3 linked regions of the Homo sapiens genome follow. The protein of the gene in region 2 interacts with the protein of the main gene of each other region in a pairwise test. Each region holds a gene or a part of one and is shown on either strand. Other genes may lie near its edges. The genes, in order: UQCRC1, PFDN2 and PFDN1.

Region 1 (3,653 bases), on a different chromosome or scaffold from region 2:
GGCACGATCTTGGCTCACTACATCCTCTGCCTCTTGGGTTCAAGCAATTCTGCCTCAGCCTCCCAAGTAGCTAGGACTACAGGCACGTGCCACCACACCTGGCTAATTTTTGTATTTTTAGTAGAGACAGGGTTTCACTATATTGGCCAGGCTGGTCTCGAACTGCTGACCTCGTAATCCACCTGCCTTGGCCTCCCAAAGTGCTGGGATTACAGGTATAAGCCACCGCGCCCAGCCTGTGGTGCGTGTTTCACAGCAACCAGGAGGCTGTCAAGAAAATTAATATTACCTTATTGGGTGCCAAGGCAACACTGTTTGGTGTTCAGAGCTGATTAAAAACAACAACAAAAAAGATATTATAGGAACAATATTTAGTGTGATAAAATATACAGTCTAAACCAATAGTCCCTTCCTTAATGATGAAAGGATAAAATCATTGCCAGAACAAAGGCAGCGTGTAATTTTTAGAAAGGAAAAAATAAGTTGTTATTTGCAAATGATATGTTGTATGCTTAGACAAAAACAAATAATTAACTGAAAATTGAGAGTGAATTTAAGGATTTGTATGCTGGTGAGACCAGGTAAATGTGCACAGTTAGAAGTGTCCCTGTGGGTCCTTGATAGCCAATCAGGAGAGCAATGATGTGGTGTGACGAGTCATTCGGCTGCCCCTGTTTTCCAAGCATGACTGTGTCCCCAAGCACAGGGGTCCTGCTGGGGCAGCTCTCCCTGACTCCAGGATTCATAAGTCCCTGCCTGGGGCTTGTACTGAGTCACTCAGGTGGGGTGTGAGTAGGGGGCTGGGGAGTGGTTTGTTTGTAACCTTTTCTGGTGGCTTCTTGACCAGGTGGGAGTGTGGATTGATGTTGGCAGCCGTTTTGAGACTGAGAAGAATAATGGGGCAGGCTACTTTTTGGAGCATCTGGCTTTCAAGGTGAGGCTCTTAAAGTCTGTCTCCTCTGGGCTTAGGGCTGCCTGTTGTCCCTCCTGAGGATGAAGGTCAGAAAAATTAGCCTGATTATGGGCCTCAGTTGCGGGGCTGATGTCTGGCTGGCTTTCCTAAAAGGAGCCACATGAGCTTAACCTCTCCTGAGTGGGCACGTATCTGATGAGCCCCTGCCTGAGGCCCTCAGAGCCAAGAGGACCCAAGGAACCATAGGAGCCCCACTTTTCACCAGAGAAGCCAGGCCTGTGGAACACACGTAGATATGCACATGCATTTTAACAAACCCACAGACATGGGCATGCATGCTTGCTTATGAAATGTTCTTCTCTGGTGGAATATCTAGGCATCCCTTGGTTGTAAAGACCCATGTTTTTTAAAGGAATGAAAAACATGGAGAAGGATTATGGGGTGGGCAGGGCCATGGAGCCATAGTAGGCAACCTAGCCAGCTGCAATGTCACAGGTATGTGTGCAGAATTAACGTGTGTGTGCACACCAAGAGATAGCACCACTGTTCTCCACACACAGGACTAGGATTGGGTCCCACAGAGGCCACTAGCATGTATTCACAAACATACAGTCATGGGAATGGCATGGGAGGAGTGGGTTCTATCACTTGAACACAGGTGTGGGCTTACCTGACCATGGCTGTCAATAAGGAGGGGGGAGGTGTACTGGTAATGATCCCCACAGCTTGTTGGTAAGCTGTTACAGGAGCTTTAGGCAACACTTGCTCTGGCCATGCCCTTCAGTCCTGGCCCTGGCTATCTCTGTTCTGTTGGCGCATGATGCCATGGTTTTGGTCACCTCAAGGCCTGCTTAGTGCTTGGTAAACAGACTCTGGGATCTGTGTCCCCAGAGTCTATGCTGAGGGAGGTACCTGTGGACCAGTGGTCCTGCTGGGTGTTTAGCCTCTGAGGACAGGGTTCTTGGGTTCCTGTGTAGCTCCTGATTGTTCTGGTTGATATCTGGTTCCAGGGAACAAAGAATCGGCCTGGCAGTGCCCTGGAGAAGGAGGTGGAGAGCATGGGGGCCCATCTTAATGCCTACAGCACCCGGGAGCACACAGCTTACTACATCAAGGCGCTGTCCAAGGATCTGCCGAAAGGTAACACCTGGAGGAAGAGGCGGGGACAGAGGGCAGGGAAGCAGAGGACAGCTACCTAGGAGCCCCTGGCTGACCACAGAATCATATTACCCTTAGCGTATGGCTTTGCAGCTGGGCAACTAGGGGTGGGCAGCAGGAGATGCCAGGCCTGGGGATTTTGTGCTGTCGTTGGTCTGCAGTGGTCCACCTGGCACCTAAACATGTCCTCCTTGCATCTAGCTGTGGAGCTCCTGGGTGACATTGTGCAGAACTGTAGTCTGGAAGACTCACAGATTGAGAAGGAACGTGATGTGATCCTGCGGGAGATGCAGGAGAATGATGCATCTATGCGAGATGTGGTCTTTAACTACCTGCATGCCACAGCATTCCAGGGCACACCTCTAGCCCAGGCTGTGGAGGGGCCCAGTGAGAATGTCAGGTGAGAGTTGGCTGGCCTTGTGGGGGGATGCTTGCTCCATTCTGGCCTGGCCAGACCCTTTCCAGGTCACATTTTTAGTTGGCTAGCTGTCGGGGTTATTTTCCTGAGTTATGCAACTGGAGACAGTTTCTGTATCCATGTGGTCCAGTGAGTCTTTTTTAATGGCTTTGTGGGCTTCACTTGAATTTTGGGCTTTGTTTTAAGGTATGTTTTGGTGCATGTCCTGACAGTCCAAGGGCGAAGTGTCTGGGTGTCCCCTCCATGTGGTCTCTTGTCTCCTTTGTGGATGGCTCCGGGAGCTTTGATGCTGCCCTTTTGAGAGTCCCACAGTGTTGGCTCACGCCTTCTCAGAGAAGACTATGAGCCTGTCCTGAAGTCAGGCATGAGGCAAGGGCAGACAAGGGTTGCCCTCTGGGCCCTGGAGGGGTGGGTGGCAGAGACAGGGGAAGGGGGTTGGGGAGTGTGCTAGGGCCCACTCTTCGGAGAAACCATGCCTCTCCTAGTCTGCCTCCTCAGTCCCATTCATGCATGTACCCCAACTCACTCCAGTGTGGTAGAGGTGTTGACACACTGACCATATGTCTTGTAGGAAGCTGTCTCGTGCAGACTTGACCGAGTACCTCAGCACACATTACAAGGCCCCTCGAATGGTGCTGGCAGCAGCTGGAGGTGAGTGATGGAATCACTGAAGTCCTGGGTAGTGGGGTCCCAGCCTTGGTTATCAAAGCCGAGGTCCTGGTTCCCACCATAGGGGACCTTTCACCCCAGGGGACTCTGCTCCCACCCTAACCTTGAGGGGAATGACCTTCCTCCTGTGCTCTCTGAGGTGGGATAGGATTCTACCCTGCCGCCACCACTGGGACTGGTTACACAGGATGCTGTCCCTCTGGTACAGGTCTGTCTTAGCCCCACCTGGTTCTAGGATACTGAGTTCATGGGCTGGTAGGGGATGTAAGCTCCTGGCCTTGTTCCTTGTGGCCTTGCCCTTGGGAGAGCCAGCCATTAGTTGTGTGTTGATGCATGCCTGATAACAAACCAAGAAGTGCCTTGAAAGGAAGGCACAGAAGGGTGGGGAAGATTTCACTGGGGACTCAGAGTTGGAGTTTGGGGGAGGGGCTTTTTAAAGCACCTGTAGTTTGAACAGAAGCCTGAAAGGTGGTGAGTGTTATTTAGGTGGGGTGT
Region 2 (3,653 bases):
GGAGGGCTGTCTCAGGCATTATAGGATGTTTAACAAATCCCTGGACTATACCCACTAAAAGTCAGTAGCAACCCCTTTGATTTGTGACAACCAAAAATGTCTCCAGACACTGCCAGATGTCTCCTAGGAAAAGATAATGCCAGTTGAGAATCACTGCTACAGGGTAACAATGAGAACTAACTGAGATAATAGGTCAAGTGCCCGATACAATGTAGATCTTCGACTCCCCTTTGGTTTCCAGGTCCCTTCAGTTCTCCTTCCTATCTCAAGCCTCCTTCTTTCTCCTTTCTGAAAGTTCTTCCTCTTTCACTCCCACAATGGCCACAGGATCTAAGATTCTATTCATAGCACTTCTTCATTACCTACATTATTTTTGAAATTATTTTTTATTGATTCATAATCATATTTTCATGGTATTGTGATAATTTGATATATTCATATAATCAAATCAGGGTAACCTATACTATTTCAAGTGGCATTCTTAGCTACTTCTATAGTTCCAGCAATTGCCTTTATTCTACTTGCCTGCAAAACCAGGCCTTTTCAGAAATTCTAGTCCCACATTTACAAGTTAGAGGAAGGAGCTTTTTTGTGCCTGACAGAAATGGCTTAACGTCAGACCATGACAAGTTACTTCTTTTCTGAATGTTTCTTCACCAATAAAATACAGATTAATACCTGTCTCACAGAATGCATAAGTATTAATTACTTCTTTTCTGATGTTTCTTCACCAATAAAATACAGATAATACCTGCCTCACAGAATGTTGTAAGGATTAAGTAATTACATCAAGAACTTAGGACAATATCTATCATATAACAAGTTTTCAATAAATAGTAGCTGCTATTATTACAGATCATCTCCACCTAAATGTCCCATGGATATCTTAAACTCATGTTGTTCAAAGCTGAAGTGATCTTATCTCTTCTATTTCTGCTACTGACATCACTCTAGGCCTCCTGGTAGGAAACCTTAGTTTCATCTTTTGTTTTGTTTTTAAAGATGGGGTCTCCCTATGCTGCTCAGACTGGTGAAAAGTGGTTATTCACAGGCACAATTATAGCACACTATAGCTTCAAACTCCCAGACTCAAGTGATCCTCCTGTCTCAGCTTCCTGAGTAGCTGGGACTACAGGCACTTGCCACCATACCCAGGTTCATCTTTGAACATACCATAATCCCATGAACTGCCAAATGTATTGCACTTAGTTTAGCAATTTCTCTTAGGCTCACTGACATAACCCTAGTTCAGATGTTCATTACATTCTTATCTGAATTACTGCAATAGTCTTCTAAATGATCCTATTTTTAGACTCCCCAAACCTACCCTACACACTGCTAATTTAATCTTCCTAACACTTAGATGACATAGAAAAATGTTCAACATATACTATTAGGCTTAAAAAACAGATTACAAACCAGTACATACTGTAGTATAATCCTAATTTTATAAAATATGTAAAAAAAAAAAAAAGCTCCCCCTTCCATCCACACATATATACACAAAAAGACAAAGGAGGGGGGAAAAAATCTCTCAAAGGATATACTCCTAAATGGCAAGAAAAGTTATCTCTGGATAGTTGGATTATGGGCAATTTATTTCCTGGTTTGAACTTTTTCCTTTGTTTTCTGCAGTTCCGACAATAAATGTATTATTTTATATAAGAGTTAAACAATTAATAATATAACATATATCCTTCTGTGACTTCCTCACTGCTTATGTTAAAAAGTCATAAATTCTTTGGCATGCACTCAAAGACCTCTATGGCCTTATTCAACTACTCTCCTCTTATCATATTCCCTACTTTCTATTCCCACTGCTACCTGTTCAAATCCATCCACTCCTTCAGGGTTCTGCTCAAATACCTCTAACATAATCATGGCATAAGTGAAAAAAATACCTGATTCTTAAGTCCCTCATTTAAAAATCCTGCTCTTCCAGTTACTGACCTTGGGCAAGTTAACTAAAGCCTCTGAAATTAAAATGTCCTCACCTATAAATGGAGGACAACACAACCTACTTCAAATGGCAGTAATTGAATAACAGAAGGTAGGCCTGAGCGGTGGCTCAGCTCATGCCTGTAATCCTAGCACTTTGGGAAGCCAAGGCAGGTGGACTGCTTGAGCCCAAGAGTTCAAGACCAGCCTGGGCAACATGGCAAAACTCCATCTCTACAAGAAATACAAAAATTAGCTGGGCAGGGTGGCACACGCATGTAGTCCCAGTAACTTGGGAGGCTGAGGTAGAAGGATCACCTGAGCCTTGGGAGGTTGAGGCTGCAGTGAGCCGTGATCGCACCACTGCACTCCAGCCTGGGCAACAGAATGAGACCCTGTCTCAGTCAGTAACAGAAGGTAAAACAAGTGTCTAACACAATGTGTTATTTGCTTCCATCTTGTTTGTAAGGGACATATGTGGCTCAAATTTGCAGCAGTGATAAATCTTGTAATGTTTTACCCAGTGTTCTCTCCAGAATAAACAAAGGCAAGAGAATGTTAATCAAGGAACAGCCTCAAAACTCACTTATCACACTTCCTCAGTTTCCTGAGGGAAGTTTGAGGGGTTCTCTTTAGCTCCCCTAAAACAGTGGTTCCACTCTTGTTCTACTTCTTTTTTCACTTTCTGTACAAACTATGGAAAGTGATCATTTTTATCCATAACCACGGCTTTATCATCCATAAACTCAATTCTCAAATCTGTATCTCCAACTCAGATTTCTTACTGTATCTCAAGATTTAAAAATCAAAGTGTCTACTGAATGTTTAACCTGGGTGTCCCACAAGAAACCTAAACTCAAAATCCTAAAATAAACTTACATTTCCCCCAAAATTGTCTGTCTTCCTACATTCCTTATGGCACCATTATCCACCAAAGACAGAAACCTGAGAGACATCTTATATTCCTCTTTTACCCCCTTTTCTCCATATTCAAGTTCTGTAATCCACCTCAAACATTAAGTCCCACCTGCATCCCAAACATGCCAGGCAGTTTCACGCCTTAGTGTTTTGGAACACATTTATTCCCTCTACCTAGAAAATCTTCCACTTCCTTCTTTGCTTGACTAACTTCTCTCATCCTTTAGAATTGAGCTGAAGGATTTTTCTCCTCTAGAAAACAAAAGCTAACTAGCATTTACTAAACACACACTATATTCTAATCACTGTGCAAAACACTTCGCATGCATTGTCTTGCCTAATACTCTAAATTCAGTGATGAGGTAGGTATTGTTATGTTTCTACAGATGGGGGAGGCCAAGATGTAACTCATGGGAGGTCATATATAAATAGTAAATAGTAGAAATGAAATTCAAACTTAGGTCTGACCCTAGTGCATAAGAATGCTCTTAGCCACCCTACTATACCACAGCTTCCCTTATCCAGCCCCTACCCCCACAATCCTACAACCTCGTGATTAGTTAGGGGTCTCTCCTCTGCTGCCATAATGAAGGGATTGTGCAGCACACTATAAATCTTTATTGTTTGGTTTGTCTTTTCTCAAATGAGTCTGAGTAAAGCAATTTGAAGACAAAGTCTGTTTCATGTACAATAGTCTCTCATTATCCAGAGTTATCCAATGTCTGAAAATAAATGGAAAATTCCAGAAATAAACAATTCATACTTTTTGTGTGTTTGTTTTTTGAGACAAGAGTCTC
Region 3 (3,653 bases), on a different chromosome or scaffold from region 2:
TTCCTCAAACAAAAAGCACTGTATAAGCCTTAGTATCTTTTATTATTATTTCCAGAGTGTATATAGTACCTCTGAAAAGCTCAAAATGTACAAGTGGAAATTTTCAACTTTTTCCATTTTACATCAGGCACATTATTTACCACTGATGAGGGTGGAAATATGGAGAAGTTTTAAAAATTAACACTGAAACTGTTTTATGACTTTATGTTCACAATTCTTGCTTCAGGGAAAGGAAGAACAAACTTTTATAGCCCCAAGTAAGTGAACTGAAATATTTCCCCTCCACTGGAACCAAGGGAAGACCCCAGTTATGCAAATCTCTTTCAGGACTGTCTAAGGAAGCTAAAATATATTTCAATTTAATATTGCAATTAATTAAGCAAGATTTTTCTTCTCTTTGCACTAACAGAGTTCAGCAACAAAGAACTAAACATCATCTCTTAACAAAAAGTCAAACGAGAAAACACATCAAGGTAGCAACATGCAGTTTCCTCTGCCAACCCCACAAAAACATCATTGTGCCTAGGTGGGTTCTTATCAAGAGAGTCCGTTATTATAGATATAAGACAAGTAAAAACAGACCAAAAAGGGCAATTAGCTATGCCCCAACACCTGGAAGGAAACTGCCTTGTCCCCTCTTCTTCATAACTAAGCCTTACCACACATATTAATAAAATCTGAAGAACTTCTTTTACTCCACTAATTATTAAGCTTATATCCTAATGCGGCCAGCCCAGATAATTTTTTTTTTTGAGACGGAGTCTCGCTCTGTTGCCCAGGCTGGAGTGCAGTGGCATGATCTTGGCTCACTGCAAGCTCCACCTCCCGGGTTCATGCCATTCTCCTGCCTCAGCCTCCCGAGTAGCTGGGACTACAGGCGCCCACCACCACGCCTGGCTAATTTTTTCTATTTTTTAGTAGAGACAGGGTTTCACCATGTTAGCCAGGATGGTCTCGATTTCCTGACCTCGTGATCTGCCCGCCTCGGCCTCCCAAAGTGCTGGGATTACAGGCATGAGCCACCACGCCCAGCCCAGCCCAACTGATGATCTTAGTCTTCAGTAGTAACTTGATTCTTTGTAAAACCTTACTGTATATTTACAGGAAAGAGAGCCCACATTCATGCAAAACAAGGATTAATTCCAGGTCTTTTACTATAGAACCCTTCATGTCTAAAATATTCTTACTGGATCCAAGAGATGGGTGCTATTTCAGATAAGATTATGGTTTACAGAATATTTTTCTCAGAACTAACTCATATTTGTATTTGAAGAGAAGAGTTGTTTTGAACAGTACTAAGTCTCAGTAATGTTATGTAAAAACTATTCTAAAACAAGGTGCAAGAGTCACCAAATTATGTCATGACATGTGTGATTTTACTGAGAAAGTCTTTTAGCCATGGAAATAATTTTTTGAGTAAAATATACATTTTTAAGTAGCACTGATAGCTGGCCAATGAGTACTATTCTCAAATAAAAGGTCATCAGACATCATCTTTATTAGTGTCTGGGAAAATTTCAAAGCTAAGATTAGAGGTCAAGTCATTACTTATGTGGCCTTTAAAAATAAAGTATCTGAACAGATACTAAATCTCTTGAGCAGAAAATAAAATTACTAGAAAGCAAGAACACTCAACAACAAAAACACGTTTTTCCATGACCACATATCCTTTGAGGTAGCTATACTGGACTGTGCCAACTTCAAAGGCCAGAGAGATTCCACCGAAGCTGGCCAACTTACTACTACAAACCTAAGGACATCTCAGCCACGCAAGTTTTAACAAGGATGAATGTTGGGTAAATGCAAATGTCTACCTCAAAGAGTAGTTACACAGTAAAAATTCAAACACAAAAACTTATGGAAAGTTTGGTTTAGTCCTCAATTTAAAAAATGGCAAAGATATATTGTATGAAGACTGGAAAAGGCTCCAAGAAACATCTGATTTCTGAAAAAAAGTCTTTGGAAAACATCTTTCTTATTGTTTAAAAGGGCATTGGATTATCAGATACTATGTGAAGAGAAAGGATTTATCATGATAATATAAGTCTTATCATAAGCAAATATTATGTACACAGTTGCTCAATGTAGAGAATCTCATAGTCATTCTGCCTGATTGTTTATGGAAAGCCAAATAGTAAATAAAGAATTCTGGAGTTCAAAATGTACCAATAAGGAAAAATAAACCATGAAGAGGGAAAGTATTCTCTCATGACAAATAATATGCAGATAACATGCTTAAAATACTCAGGATTATATAACCTGAATTCGAGTTGATGCTTTGCAAAAGGCCTCTTCTTTGACCTGGAAATCAGTGCCACGTGCCTCTGCACTGTCCACTCTCAAGGACTTGTAACCTGCTATTTCACTTCCTCATTTATTTGTAATTATGCCATCTGAAAACATAATTCTGAGACTTTCGGTTTTGATTATTTGAGAAACATCAGACTCCGTTTTCTAAATCATCCTGCAGTTTGGTACAACTTCCACTTTCTTATAACTCAGTATGAATCAAAACCATTGTTCACCTGCCCAAAACACAATCCCAGATCACTTGCACTGCTGCATTTTGGACACAATTTCCAAAGTATGGTCACCTAGACATATGCTATTCAGAAACAACAAAATGCTTATGACGAGTTCACTTTGGGTGGGAAATTTTTAGAGGGTGTCTAAAAACGTATCCTATTAGCATTTAGGTTTCAGGGTATTCACAAATTAAGCAGCATAGAAAAGACATAAGAATGAGCCTATCTTCAGGAGAATGGCGTGAACCCGGGAGGTGGAGTTTGCAGTGAGCCGAGATCGCGCCACTGCACTCCAGCCTGGGCAACAGAGCGAGACTCCATCTCAAAAAAAAAAAAAAAAGAATGAGCCTATCTTGCTTCTTTGCCTAACTCCACTGGTGAGGAAAGTTACTGAATTTTTACGTCGTAATTTTTAGCGTGGAAGCAAGTAGAAATAAATTGAACTTCTTTTTTTAAAATTTTTTTAAATTGAATTTATTTCTTACTTTAATCACTTCCTTAGTAAGGAAGTGATTAAAACTTTATGGCACATCCACATTGTGGACTGCTCAGTGAGTTACAGACTTCTGTTATTGGCATAATGAAGAGTAGATACCCTGAACACTCCTGATTAGAAACAAAGGAAAAAAAAATTTTTTTTTAACATTTTGTTGAACTAACACAAAAGGAAGGATTCCACAAAGGTCCAAAGTGAAGTGAAACTGGGAATTCAGGAATGTAAGACAGCAGTAAATTGGCTTTCATCCTGAGAGTTTATGCTGAATCCTGGAGACCTTAAGTATCCACACTGGCACAGAAATAGGATACAAAACAGGAGATAAAACCAAGGGGGCAGCCAGGCATAATGGCATGCACCTGTAGTCCTAGCTACTCAGAAAGCTGAGGTGTGAGGATTGCTTAAATCCAAGAGTTCAAGTCCAGCCCAGGCAACATAGCAATGCCCCATGTCTAAAAAATAAATAAATTTTTTTAAAAAAGAATGACTAATTAAATAAAAAACCAAACCGAAATTTAAAAAAAAATATTTTTTTTATTGACATGTAAAGATGTCAATATAGTAAGTTAGTAAGTAAGTAAAAACTCAAGTTTAAAAAATTAGCACGTCAGCCAGGCGTGGTGGTTCACACC

The links.
Region 1: the proteins of PFDN2 (region 2) and UQCRC1 interact in binary tests that used the Homo sapiens proteins (3 or more experiments, as listed by UniProt).
Region 3: the proteins of PFDN2 (region 2) and PFDN1 interact in binary tests that used the Homo sapiens proteins (3 or more experiments, as listed by UniProt).

Annotation. Positions count from the first base shown.
Region 1 is NC_000003.12:48,603,051-48,606,703, reverse strand, and holds part of UQCRC1 (cytochrome b-c1 complex subunit 1, mitochondrial precursor), read left to right. Parts: intron 1-847; coding exon 848-934; intron 935-1,553; exon of another isoform or gene 1,554-1,784; intron 1,785-1,923; coding exon 1,924-2,053; intron 2,054-2,272; coding exon 2,273-2,471; intron 2,472-3,060; coding exon 3,061-3,140; intron 3,141-3,653. UniProt on the Homo sapiens protein: Component of the ubiquinol-cytochrome c oxidoreductase, a multisubunit transmembrane complex that is part of the mitochondrial electron transport chain which drives oxidative phosphorylation.
Region 2 is NC_000001.11:161,111,442-161,115,094, forward strand, and holds part of PFDN2 (prefoldin subunit 2), read right to left. Parts: intron 1-3,653. UniProt on the Homo sapiens protein: Binds specifically to cytosolic chaperonin (c-CPN) and transfers target proteins to it. Binds to nascent polypeptide chain and promotes folding in an environment in which there are many competing pathways for nonnative proteins.
Region 3 is NC_000005.10:140,282,499-140,286,151, forward strand, and holds part of PFDN1 (prefoldin subunit 1), read right to left. Parts: intron 1-3,653. UniProt on the Homo sapiens protein: Binds specifically to cytosolic chaperonin (c-CPN) and transfers target proteins to it. Binds to nascent polypeptide chain and promotes folding in an environment in which there are many competing pathways for nonnative proteins.